Linked DNA regions of Homo sapiens. The protein of the gene in region 1 interacts with the protein of each later gene in a pairwise test. Each region holds a gene or a part of one and is shown on either strand. Other genes may lie near its edges.

Region 1 (3,500 bases):
GTGCCAATACTGTAAATTAATCACCAGTCTCAGATCATATATTTGCCATTTCCAACATATGCTTTTAGTCCAGTCTAATCACCAGTCTCAGACTATACATTGCCATTTTCAACATATGCTTTTAGTGAGTTATTTAAAAATATTAAGATATCAGATGTTTTGAGTATCAGCAATAGGTAAGTCAATCTCTAAACATTTTCAGTAGTGAAAAACACAAAAAACACTTTAAGCAGAGGGTATTTGGTTTTGAGATCCTTGTTCTCTTAAAATCTGTGATCTGAAATCTAGTCAGTTTTCTCATTAACATCCTTGTCCCTTGGGATAAATTAAATCAGCAAACTAAAGTGCTATGTAACTATTAAAATATTTTAAAATATTGGTTATTTAAAACTTATTAGGGGCCGGGTACAGTGGCTCATGCCTGTAATCCCAGCACTTTGGGAGGCTGAGGCAGGTGGATCACTTGAACTCAGGAGTTTAAGACCAGCCTGGGTAACATGGCGAAACCTCGTCTCTACAAAAAATACAAAAATTAGCCAGGTGTGGTGGCGTGTGCCTGTAGTCCCAGCCACTTGGGAGACTGAAGTGGGAGGATGGCTTGAGCCCAGGAGATGGAGGTTGCAGTGTGCTGAGATCATGCCATGCATTGCACTCCAGTCTGGGTAACAGAGCCAGAATCTTATTAGGGAATTCTGACATCTTCATCTTTTTATAAAAGATGGCCAGGCTGGGTGCGCTGGCTCACATCTGGAATCCCAGCACTTTGGGAGGCTGAGGCGGGTGAATCACCTGAGGTCAGGGGTTCAAGACCAGCCTGACCAATATGGTGAAACCTCATCTCTACTAAAAATACAAAAATTGACTGGGCACGGATAGCTCACGCCTGTAATCCCAGCACTCTGGGAGGTTGAGGCGGGTGGATCACCTGAGGTCAGGAGTTTGAGACCATCCTGCCCAACATGGTGAAACCCCGCCTCTACTAAAAACACAAAAATTAGCTGGGCGTGGTGGTGTGCTCCTGTAGTCCCAGCTACTCAGGAGGCTGAGGCAGGAGGATCGCTTGAACCCAGGAGGTGGAGGTTGCAGTGAGCTGAGATTGCGCCACTGCACTCCAGACTGGCAATACAGTGAGACTCAATCTAAGATAAAACAAAGAAACAAAAAGGAATGCACTTCTTAATAAGCTGGAGATTATTTTAGGCATGGCTTTCCCTCATAGTCTATGAAATTTTCCTACAATGATCATCCTCAGTTAGCACATGGGGCATTTAGTATATGTCAGGAAACAGGCCTAAGGTTTTTACAAGCTTTCTGATGTAATCATCAAAACAATTCTATGAGGCTGGAAGTAGGTACAATTTTACAATTTTTATCCTCATTTTACAGATGAAGAAATACTCTTAAAGAAAATGTTAATGTCAACAACAAACAATAAATTGGTACTGGGTATTGTCAAATATATTTTTTAATTTTTACTTTTTTTCAGACAGAGTCTCACTCTGTCACCCAGGCTGGAGTGCAACGGTGCAATCTTGACTCACTGCAACCTCCGTCTCCTGGGTTTAAGTGATTCTCCTGCCTCAGCCTCCTGAGTGAGTAGCTGGGATTACAGGCATATGCCACCATGGCTGGCTAATTTTGTATTTTTAGTAGAGACAGAGTTTCACCATGTCGGACAGGCTGGTCTCGAAAACTCCTGACCTCAGGTGATCCGCCTGCCTCGGCCTCCCAAAGTGCTGGGATTACAGGCTTGAGCTACTGTGCCAGGCCAAGTATATTTTTAATTAATGTATTCATTATAATACAATTTACTACAAATTTGAGGGGGGAGGCTTTCCATATGGAATTCAAGATATTTTTGGATATATATTCAACTTTTTTTTTTAAGAGTTGGGGGTCTTGTTATGTTGCTGATATGGTTTGGATGGCTGTCACTTCCAAATCTCATGTTGAAATGTAACCCCCAATGCTGGAGGTAGGGCCTCGTGGGAGGTATAGAATCATGGGGCAAATCCTTCATGAATGGCTTGGCACCATCACCTTGGTGATGAGTGAGATCTTAGTTCATGTGAAATTTGGTTGTTTAGAGTCTGGGACCTCCTCCTCTCTCTTGCTCCCTCTCTCACCATGTGATATGCTCGCTCCCATTTTGCCTTCTACCATGATTGTAAGCTTCCTGAGGCCCTCATCAGAAGCAGCTGCTGGTGCCATGCTTTGTGTACAGCCTGCAGAAACTGTAAGCCAATTAAATCTCTCTTTTGCAAGAATTACCCAATCTCAGATATTCCTTTACAGTAATGCAAACAGATTAAAACAGATTAGTACTGACAGTGGGGCACTGCTATACATATTGGAAAATGTAGAAACAGCTTTGGAACTGGGTAACAGGCAGAGGTTGGAAGAATCTGGAGGGCTCAGAAGACAGAAAGATGAGGGAAAGTTTGGAACTTAGAGACTAGTTAAGTGGTTGTGACCAAAATGCTGATAGACATATGGTGAAGTCCAGAGTGATGAGGTCTCAGATGGAAATGAGGAAGTTATTGGGAACAGGAATAAAGGTACATCTATGTCATGCTTTAGCAAATAGCTTGGGTGCATTGTGTCCAGGCCCTAGGAATCTGTGGAAGTTTGAACTTAAGAGTGATGACTTAGGGTATCAGGGTATCTGGCAGAAGAAATTTCTAAGCAGCAAAGCATTCAAGATGTGGCCTGGCTGATGCTAGCAGCCTACAATCAGATATGGAAGCAAAGAAATAACTTAAAGTTGGAACATATTTAAAAGGGAAGCAGAGCGTAGAAGTTTGGAAAATTCACAGACTAGTCATGTGGCAGAGAAGGAAAAAGCACTTTGAGGAGAGGAATACAAGCAGGCTGCAGGAATACAGTTGTCCATGCTGGACTCAACTCATTTGCTCAAGCAATCCTTGTGCCTCAGCCTCCCAAGTAGCTGGGGCTATAGCTTGTGCCATCATGCTCAGCTATTCACCTTACATTGCTGTCCAAAATGTTTTCATTTGAGGCAACCTGGGATAGTAAAAGTACTTCTAATTAAACACTCCTGCCATTAGTATCTAGCTGTGTAGCCATAAATAAGTTATTTGATATTTCTTGAGTCTCAATTAATACCTACTATTAGCAGAGATTTTGTGAAGAATAGTCTTAATGTATTTAAAGCTTTAATGGCACTTATTTAGAAGGTCCTCAGGAAATGGTATTATTATTCCAAGGTCTTTCTAGATTGCCTTATTCACCTAAAGAGACTTGATCTTGAGCCTTTGTAGATTTTCTCATTGGTGATTCCTTCACTGCTTAGAATGTCATGATTCCACCAGACAGGTTACTCTCATCTACGTGTATTTTTCTTACATCTTTTTCAGTCTATTTTTCTCTAGCAATTATCTTCAATGTTTATGCTTACAATAACCTTAGTATTTGGCATTACGACACTAATATGTGCCCATGAGACAGACGGAGCACTACTTATCCCAGAGGAGGTATTA
Region 2 (3,500 bases), on another chromosome or scaffold:
AACAAATCATATTTGGACAGTCTGGAAAATAGCCCGTAAGGTTCAAAGTGAAGTGTTCTTCTCAAAGGACTGAAATATTCCAATACCATCACAAGCATGTGGGCAGGTTTTACTTATTTTCCCGTAGACTTGAGACTTCAGAGGCCATTTAAGCCTTCGGGTAAAAATAGGCTGGGCAGCAAGTGGGCAAATGGTCTGTCAGGGTACAGCAAAGGAAAGACATGAGTAAATGTACATCATGACAAAGAAGATAAGAAACAGGCTGTGAACTGGGAAAGATGATTAGTGTGTAAAGTGCTCCCTGGATTCAATGGTAACTAACAGCTTATCGACAGGAAGCCTAGATGTAAATACACCACCACTAGAGCACTGAAGGGCACATTTTCAGGTAGACCAGGCATTAGACAGTATCGGCCCTTAGTGATGAGCATCGTTAAATACAGCAAAGTTAGCATCCGGCTATGGGATGCTAACAAAGGAAAGCCACCTCTCCTCAGTCACAAGCCAATACCTTTCCAACTTTACCAAACCACTTCCTGAGTCGGATTCACAGGGTCCTTTACCAGATGTAAAAGCTTGATATTATCAACTAAATGCCTGTGTCCCCCAGACTTCCTATGTTGAAATCTAATCCTTAATGTGATGGCCTTTGGAGGTAGGGCCTTTGGGAGGCGATCGGGTCATGGGGGCAGAGCCTCCGCGAATGCAATTTATGCCCTTACAAAAGGGACCCCAGGAAGTTAGCGAGCTCTCTTTCCACCACATGAGAAGAACAAGCAGTTGGCAGTCTGCTGCCTGCAAGAAGGCCTTCCCCTGAACCTGACCATGCTGGCATCTTGGTCTTGGACTTCTAGCCTCCAGAATGGTGAGAAGTAAATTTCCATTGTTTACAAGCCACCTAGTCTACGGCGCCTTGTTAAAGCATCCCCAACTGACCAAAACCCCTGATCAGGGGAAACAAACTACCAAGGGAGTGCAGCTCACTTTCCTGGAGATTCTTAAACTTTTGAGGAAAACATAAAATCTTGTCAGGAGCCCAATGTACAAGATGGAAAAAACAAATATTGTACAGTTACAAGAGTTATTCGTCATAATTCAGTGCAATAGCACAGGCTAATTTCCTGTTAAACCCTCTAGGCTGTGGCACTGGGTTACAGCATCTGGGCCAGAACAGCCAGGCCAGTGAGCCAATGCTCTGAAGGCCTGCAGTGTCCACCTGGGGAGAGCACCTGGGGGCAAGCAGAAAGTCTGCGTTTCGAAACTCCAGTAGATTTTGCCTCAAATTCAAAATGCTAGCAAGAATTGTGGAGAAATGTCCCAGTATTAAAGCCAAGTTCATGTTTTCAGGTTAAACACATTCTAAGTCAAATCAAAAAGCAGGGAAAAAAAAAAAAACAACAACTTCACAGAGGTGGTAAAAACTATGCAGAGAGGAAATGATTAGTATAAAAGTCAGGAATATGGAAAACTTCCGAAAGGAGGAAAGTACATCCGGAGCTAGGCTGTTTCGGGGGTGTGAGTCCATTTCTCGATCTGGGTGATCAAGGGATGTTCTAATTATCTGTTTCACTGAACTTCTGTGCACTTTTCCGTATTACAATTCCTACTAAAGAAATGCAAGAGGAAGCGCCACATGCATACCTCTAGAATGACATCCATGCTCATTACAGAAATCAAAGCAATGTTAACAGCCTTCATACAATCATGGCAACTTTCCAAATATTTCAGAATGTTCAGTGTTTTGATTTACTCAAGACAGGGTAAACACAAGTGACTTTAGCTGTGAAACAGGCTTTTCATGAGGATGAGTGATATATGTAAAGACCAGTGCCAGACATGTAATAAAGAGTTGCTCAGTAAGGGGCAGCTACTGTCCCCTTCTTTCTGAAAGAGCCCGGTGCCACCAGTCTGTTCTCTGGAGAAAGGGAAAGGCACTCGGTACTGACTCCAGAATGACAAGGCACTGGGCATCTTCTGCTATCAGGCTTCTTCCCAGCATTCAGCCATATTGGAAGTACTAGCTTGTTAGTAAAACACTTTTAAAAACTTTAGAAATCTTAAAATCGCTGCATATTCACAGGAAGTTGTGAAGAAGAGTCCAGGGAGTTCCACACGCACCCTTCACCCAGCCAGCTCTAATGTCAGCACCTTGCGTAACTAGTGCAATATCAAAACCAGGAAAATGACACTGGTCCAATCCAGACCTTATTTAGACTTCAGTTACACTTGCACTTATTTGTGTGTGTAGCTCCGTGCGACTTTACCATACGAGCTGTTGCACGTGAGCACAGCACAATTCAGTGACACTTAACTGCACCATTGCAAGCTCCCCCTTGTGCTACCACTTGCAAGTCACACTCACCCCCTCCTCCCATCCGTAACCCCAGGCAATCACTAATGTGTTCTCCCATTTCTGTACCCTCCTCCACCTCCACTTTTGTGCGTCACTCAGATAAGCTATCAATAGCACCTTTATTAACTAAGGTTCAGTTTGTTACTGTGAAGTACGATACTTTATTAAGACTATGCCTTCCTGAAAGCTGTCACCATTACACTTTAGAGGTGGCAGTCCTGGTGGACTCAAAGAATTTATTTAGTTCACATTCACCTGTGAGAATAAAGATCCAACTCCTCTTGCCCAAGATCCAAACCCTGATATCTTGGTATAAAACTCACATATATGTTTGGACAACACTGAAACTTCAAAGAGCAGGGAAAATGTCTCACGATTTGGAATGCCTTTTGATGCACCCAGTAGAGATGCACACAGGAGGCCTTCACAGGCTGCAGAAACTGGAATTTCAACTGAGTACTTTGCTTCCTTTAACCTTAATTATAACAAAAGAGCAGACTGCTGCAACTCCTAAGTGATACTTGATATAAAGTCCCATCAACCTTGACTAAACAGAGACCTCAACCTTCTTGTGCATCACACTTGTGATGACTGCCTTTTCAAAAGCTTTAAATTCTGCTTACTTACTGAACCACACTCTGCCTCAGACCATTTCGCAACTGGTTTTTGTTCATCGTAGGATTCCATTCCTGCTTGTCCAGATGTGTTGACACAAAATTATCCACTTTCTGCCTCAGGTTTTGGTAAGCTGGCTAAAATGTTAAAAAGAGGAGGCAAGGTCAGAAGTTATATGCACCAAAGTTTTGAACTTAGTCTCTCAGAACACTGCTTTTCACAGAAACGTTATTAAGTCTAAATACACTTCCACTGTGCATGAAGATCACCATGCAATGTGGCAGTCAGGAATTAATGGTTAACACAAGTGCCCACCTGATGGTGGGTGGGCACAATGCCAGGCGCTTTACTTATATTATTCCATTTGCTTTTAAGTAACTCTACATGCAGCAGGCCTGACATCAACCCACAGCCTGGACCCACACCTGGGCAGCCTGCAGCCAAGCCACCAGCTGAAGCCTTCCTAGCTCAGCTGAACTTTGGTAGACCTGCCGCCCCATGAACATGTGAACAAGTGCTGGTTATAAGCTGC
Region 3 (3,500 bases), on another chromosome or scaffold:
CACAGGATCAGGGCAAAGGCCAAGGCAAGCAACACCTCCACTTCCTCCTCAGCCAGATCCCTCTAGGGGATGGCTGTGGCTACTAGAGCTGCCCGGGCCTTTATTTTATTTTATTTGTTTTTTTGAGACGGACTCTAGCTCTGTCGCCAGACTGTAGTTCAGTGGTGCGATCTCAGCTTACTGCAACCTCCACCTCTCGGGTTCAAGCGATTCTCCTGCCTCAGCCTCCCGAGTAGCTAGGACTACAGGCGTGCGCCACCACGCCCAGCTTATTTTTGTATTTTTAGTAGAGACGGAGTTTCACCATGTTGGTCAGGCTGGTCTCAAACTCTTGACCTCATGATCTGCCCACCTCAGCCTCCCAAAGTGCTGGGATTACAGGTGTGAGCCACCGCTCCTGGCCAATATTTTATCTTTTAAACAAAACTGAGTGTGTCTGGGGAATACAACTGGATATTCATACACAAAAACATATAACTGCACCTTTACCTCACACATACACAAAAACCAACATCAGGAAGATCAAAAACCTAAACATGAAAAGCTAAAAATGATAAAGGTTCTAAGAAATAATAAGAGACATATCTTCATGGTCTCAGAGTATCCTTAAAAAGGACACAGAAAGCACTGAAAAAAATTGGTAAGTCTGACTACATTAAAATTAAGAATTTCTATTATCAAAAGGGTACCAATAAGATGAAAAGGCACACCTCAGATGGGAGAAGAAATGTATTTATATATATAGACAAAGGGCTAGAAGCCCTGTAAGTCAAAAATACAAGCAATCCAATATCTGAACAGGTACTTCACAAAAGACAAAATCCTAATGGTCAGACACATTACAAAAAATTCAATCTCAGAGGTTAATAGGAAAATACAAAATTAAACTCACAAAGAGATGGCTGCAAAATACACACTAGGTGAGCAAAAATAATCGTTTTTATTTTTTAGTACTTAAAAGTGATTGTAAAAAAAAATACAATAATTACCTCTGAGTATTATTTAGCTTGCATTGGATCTTCTGAAAATAAAAATCCTCTGAAGAAATTTTTAAAGTTTTCTGATACTTACCAACAAGCTGTACTCTCCCTGAAGACAGAAGTGTTGGATCGTCCTTCCTGACATTATTTACTGAGTCATCTACTAGCTCTTTAATGTGATCAATTCCTATGACTTTTCCAGTACATCCAACCTGGAAAAGAGAAAACAATTCAGTAGCTCATTGGGCTAAATTTGTTTTTCTAAAGTATTATTGAAGTTTTTCCTTATCGAAAGTCATATTCTACAAAGAGAAAACAAAAATAGCTTAAGGCTTCTATAGATTGCTAAACACTCAGTTTATCATAAATTATTTACCATATATACAACTTTCTCAACTATCACTCTCATTGAATAAAACTTGTAATACTAAGAAAAATTATATCTTTCTTAGATTAAATCTAGAACTTTGAAGAAAATTACCAATATTTAATAGTAGTACAATAATTTTTTATTTAAATTCCATCTAAAGTATAACTTTAAATATTAAAATGTTACATAAAGAATTTGACAGGGAGGAATTTCTTTTTTTTTTTTTTTGAGAGAGAGTCTCGCTCTGTCACCCAGGCTGGAGTACAGTGGCACGATCTCAGCTCACTGCAACCTCTGCCTCCCAGGTTCAAGCAATTCTCCTGCCTCAGCCTCCTGAGTAGCTGGGACTACAGGCCCCCGCCACCATGCCCAGCTAATTTTTTTGTATTTTTAGTAGAGACAGGGTTTCACCACGTTGGTCAGGCTGGTCTCAAATTCCTGACCTCGTGATCTGCCCGCCTTGGCCTCCCAGAGTGCTGGGATTACAGGACTGAGCCACCACACACCCTGCCTCCCGCCTGATGGGAAGGAATTTCTACACTTGTTTCTACTGCTTTTAGTAGAAAACATGAAAATATATACAGTGGCTCACACCTATAATCCCAGCACTTTGGGAGGCAGAGGCAGGTAGACTGCTTGAGCCCAGGAGTTTGAGACCAGCCTGAGCAACATGGCAAAACCCCATCTCTACAAAAGAATACAAAAACTAGCCAGGTGTGGTAGCATGTGCCTCCTAAGTCCCAGCTACTTAGGAGGCTGATGTGGTGTGAGGATCACTTGAGCCTGGGAGGCAGAGGCTGCAGTGAGTTGAGATCGTGCCACTGCACTCCAGCCTGGATGACAGACTGAGACCCTGTCTCAGAAAACAAACAAAAAGCAACAACAACAAAAATCCCTTCTTTGCATATTTATTTGTAAATTAAAATATTAAGTATAAATGTTTCAAGAAAAAATATAAAAATTTAAAAAATTAACACATAAAGGCTTTGAAGTCAAACTATCTGGGTTCTTGTCTAAGTGTCATCACTTACATACATACATACCTTGGCAAGTTAACCGTTCCTTCTTTTTTTTTTGAGATAAAGTCTCGCTTTGTTGGCCAGGCTGGAGTACAGTGGCGTGATCTCAGCTCACTGCAACCTCTGTCTCCCGGGCTCAAGCAATTCTCCTGCCTCAGCCTCCCAAATAGCTGGGATTACAGGCGTGTGCCACCACACCCAGCTAATTTTTGTATTTTTAGTGGAGACGGGGTTTCACCATGTTGGCCAGGCTGGTCTCGAACTCCAGACCTCAGGTGATCCACCTGCCTCGGCCTCCCAAAGTGCTGGGATTACAGGCGTGAGCCACCACACCCGGCCTATCATTCCTTGTATGAATCAGGTTCCTCAGTACAAAATGGGGAGGAAAAAGGCATAAACCCCATCATAAAAATGGGGTAGCACTTAGAACACAGGCTCTAGTGCTTAAAACACAAAGTACTTTCACACATGGTAAATGTGTGAAAAACATTAATGCCATTTTATGAAAAACAACTCAGAAACCAAATGATTTTTTAAAATGAATACATCCTCTAAAACTATAAACATGTCAAGTATAGAGAATGAGTCATTTATTAAATGGCATTTCTAACCTTAAAAAAAATCACTGATATCCATTAATGAGGACTTAACCTCTACAAAATGAGCAAAACATCTGAGAAAATATGAGTCCTTATTATGTGCCAGGCATTGTTTTAGATGTTTAGGATACCATCATGATAAAAAAGAGCAGACAAAATTTCCAACTCCCTGGAGCTTACATTCTAGTAAGTCTGCTGATTATACATTTATAGCAAGTTACATGGATTCTAGTCCAAGGTGGATCCACAACTCCCAATTTAACTAGATCAGAATATTCCAATCTGTCCTCCAGGCACGATATTTCTCAAATCAAACTGATGTGATGATCTAAGCAATGATCAACCTTTACTCCAACATATATTAGTGGGTCCCCAGTTAATACTCTGGATAGCCATTGACCAGATAAGACTCTGATGAGAAAAGGCAGAAGTATAACAAGGCATTATTTTTCTAAGAGCACTTTTTCTAATGCAGAAGTTTTACCTTCATCCTGGTAAATCTGCAGGAATGTTTAGAAACCAGGCTCATTCT
Region 4 (3,098 bases), on another chromosome or scaffold:
TCCCAAAGTGCTGGGAGTATAGATGTGAGTCACTGCACCCAACCTTTTTCTTTGTTTTTGAGACAGGGTCTCACTCTGTTGCTCAGGCTCTGTACAGTGGTGCAGTCATGGCTCGCAGCAGCCTCAACCTCCCAGGATCAAGCCATCCTCCCACCTGAGCCTCCCAAGTGGCTGGGACCACAAGCATGTGCTACCATGCCCAGCTAATTAAAAATTTTTTTTTTTTTTTTTTTTAGAAATGGGGGTCTTGCTATCTTGCCCAGTCTGGTCTCAAACTCTTGGATTCAGGGGATTCTCCTGCCTTGGCCCCACAAAGTGCTGGAATTATAGGCGGGAGCCACCGCACCTGGCCGTGCCTGATTTCTTAAAGTTCAGTTCCAGGGCCGGGCGAGGTGGCTCACGCTTATAATCCCAGCAGTTTGGGAGGCTGAGGCGGGTGGATGTCTTGAGGCTAGGAGTTTGAGACCAGCCTGGCCAACATAGTAAAAACCCCATCTCTACTAAAAATATAAAAATTAGCCGGGCTGGGCGCAGTGGCTTGCGTCTGTATTCCCAGCACTTTGGGAGGCCGAGGCAGGCGGATCACCTGAGGTTAGGAGTTCGAAACCAGCCTGGCCAACATGGTGAAACTCCATCTCTACTAAAAATACAAAAATTCGGCTGGGCCTGGTGGCTCACACCTGTAATCCTAGCACTTTGGCAGGCTGCGGCAGGTGGATTGCCTGAGGTCAGGAGTTCGAGACCAGCCTGGCGAAACCCCGTCTCTACTAAAAATACAAAAATTTAGCTGGGCATGGTGGTGGATGCCTATAATCCCAGCTACTCTGGAGGAGAATCACTTGAACCCAGGGGGCGGAGGTTGCAGTGAGCTGAGATCGCACCACTTCACTCCAGCCTGGGTGAAAGAGTGAAACTCCATCTCAAGAAAAAAAAAAATTAGCCAGGTGTAGTGGCATGTGCCTGTAGTCCCAGCTACTCAGGAGGCTGAGGCAGAATTGGTTGAACCCGGGAGGCAGAGGTTGCAGTGAGCCGAGATCATGCCACTGCACTCCAGCCTGGGTGACAGAGTTAGATTCCGTCTCAAAAAAAAAAAAAAAAAAATTTAGCCAGGCGTGGTGGCACATGCTTGTAATTCTAGCTACTCAGGAGGCTGAGGCACGAGAATCACCTGAACCCTGGGGGTGGAGGTTGCAGTGAGCCGAGATTGCACCACTGCACTCCAGCCTAAGTGACAGAGCGAGACTGTCTCAAAAAAAAAAAAAAGTTCAGTTCCAGGGTGTGTGCTAGGGAGAAGCTGGCTGTGGAGGGGCACAGACCCTGGAGCTGGTCCCTGGCTGTTGCCACTCCCCTAGAGGGACAAGTAGCAGCTGCAGGAGGGCCCTGCATGTGCAGGGCTGTAGTGCAGACTTCACCCTGCCGTTCCCAGGTCCTCCCTGAGGCGGGGGCCGGAGAGGACAGTCCTGGGAGAAACATGGACACTGCACTTGAAGAGCTTCAGTTGCCCCCAAATGCCGAAGGCCACGTAAAACAGGTAAGACTGAGTGCAAAGGTGGTCTGTGGTTGGACACAAGATGACTTGCTCCAAACAAAATGGAAACCAGTGAGCACCCACCATGAGACCTGTGTGGCCGAGGCAGGGTGTGCAGCCTGGGTTTCAGAGCTCCCCAGTCAAATTCTCCACCATGGTGTGGGCACATCTGGATTTTGGGGGAGCAGCCCGGAGTGTCTAGCTGCCCTGGGGTTGTGCTGTGTGCGTGTCTGGTGGCCTGCTCACCATGGCCCGCCTTCCTGCTGGTGATGCAGCTCTAGGCTCTCACTCCCCTGTCCTCAGGTCTCGCCACGGAGGCCGCAAGCAACAGAGGCTGTTGGCCGGCCGACTGGCCCTGCAGGCCTGAGAAGGACCCCCAACAAGCAGCCATCTGATCACAGCTATGCCCTTTTGGACTTAGATTCCCTGAAGAAAAAACTCTTCCTCACTCTGAAGGAAAATGAAAAGCTCCGGAAGCGCTTGCAGGCCCAGAGGCTGGTGATGCGAAGGATGTCCAGCCGCCTCCGTGCTTGCAAAGGGCACCAGGGACTCCAGGCCAGACTTGGGCCAGAGCAGCAGAGCTGAGCCCCACAGGCTCCGGACGCAGAGGTGGCAGTGGCACCAGGGCCGGCAGAGCTTTGGAGCTCTGGCTGTGGACATTTTTGTCTGCTGTGGACACTGAGAAAGTTGGCCATGAGGCCTGCTTGGCCGGGGATCGAGACAGTAGCCAAGCTCCCCGGCGAGAGCCCCAATGCCGTCTGGGGGACGTTTAGAGGCGTGGCACTAGGAGTGCACATCTGTGAGCATGACAAGCTTATCCTCCCATGGTAACAGAAGTCCAGGCTGAGGCTGATTCTGGACGCTGTCCTTTCAGCACACGCAGAGCAAAGATCGTTGGAAGCCCCAGTGTGGGAGATGCTCCTCAGGGAGGAAGCCATGTGAGGGGGCTGGCTCTGTGGCGGGTGAGTGGTCCCCTCCTCCATCAGCCTGGACAGCCGCTCGGGGTTCTAAGGAGTGACTCCTGTCCCGGCCTGGTGTGAGTGGGCAGTGTAATAAAGTGTCTTTCTATACGGTGTCGCTCCCATCATCATTTTCTCTAGTGCCGTGATTCCTTCTAAGAAGACTGACTTCCGTGGCCGGGCGCAGTGGCTCATGCCTGTAATCCCAGCACTTTGAGAGGCCGAGGTGGGGAGATCACTTGAGGTCAGGAGTTCAAGACCAGCCTGGCCAACATGGTGAAATCCCATGTCTACTAAAAAAGACACAAATTAGCCAGGCGTGGTGGCACACACCTGTAGTCCCAGCTACCTGGGAGGCTGAGACAGGAGGATCAGCTGAACCCGGGAGGTGGAGGTTGCAGTGAGCCGAGATCACACCACTGCCCTCTAGTATTGTCACTGGGTGACAGAGCGAGACTCAGTCTGAAAAAAAAAACTGACTTCCTATTTTGTCTAATTTATAGCTTTAGTGAATTAAAGAAAAAAGTTCTAGCCTGATTTCCTAACTTGGGGTCTATTTATTTCTCAGGCAATGTTGTTTAATGTAGAAAATGGAACCCCAGCTTCACGTG

Evidence for each region. Proteins that work in one complex are often made in the same cells at the same time.
Region 2: the proteins of NDUFS1 (region 1) and BOD1 interact in binary tests that used the Homo sapiens proteins (3 or more experiments, as listed by UniProt).
Region 3: the proteins of NDUFS1 (region 1) and PCMT1 interact in binary tests that used the Homo sapiens proteins (3 or more experiments, as listed by UniProt).
Region 4: the proteins of NDUFS1 (region 1) and THAP3 interact in binary tests that used the Homo sapiens proteins (3 or more experiments, as listed by UniProt).

What each region holds. Positions count from the first base shown.
Region 1 is NC_000002.12:206,117,945-206,121,444, forward strand, and holds part of NDUFS1 (NADH-ubiquinone oxidoreductase 75 kDa subunit, mitochondrial isoform 1 precursor), read right to left. Parts: 3' UTR 1-3,500.
Region 2 is NC_000005.10:173,610,151-173,613,650, forward strand, and holds part of BOD1 (biorientation of chromosomes in cell division protein 1), read right to left. Parts: intron 3,106-3,500; coding exon 2,981-3,105; exon of another isoform or gene 2,977-2,980; intron 1-2,976. UniProt on the Homo sapiens protein: Required for proper chromosome biorientation through the detection or correction of syntelic attachments in mitotic spindles.
Region 3 is NC_000006.12:149,791,241-149,794,740, reverse strand, and holds part of PCMT1 (protein-L-isoaspartate(D-aspartate) O-methyltransferase), read right to left. Parts: intron 1,193-3,500; coding exon 1,072-1,192; intron 1-1,071. UniProt on the Homo sapiens protein: Initiates the repair of damaged proteins by catalyzing methyl esterification of L-isoaspartyl and D-aspartyl residues produced by spontaneous isomerization and racemization of L-aspartyl and L-asparaginyl residues in aging peptides and proteins.
Region 4 is NC_000001.11:6,630,965-6,634,062, forward strand, and holds the end of THAP3 (THAP domain-containing protein 3), read left to right. Parts: intron 1-1,405; coding exon of another isoform or gene 1,406-1,426; coding exon 1,427-1,531; intron 1,532-1,831; coding exon 1,832-2,113; 3' UTR 2,114-2,598; downstream 2,599-3,098. UniProt on the Homo sapiens protein: Component of a THAP1/THAP3-HCFC1-OGT complex that is required for the regulation of the transcriptional activity of RRM1.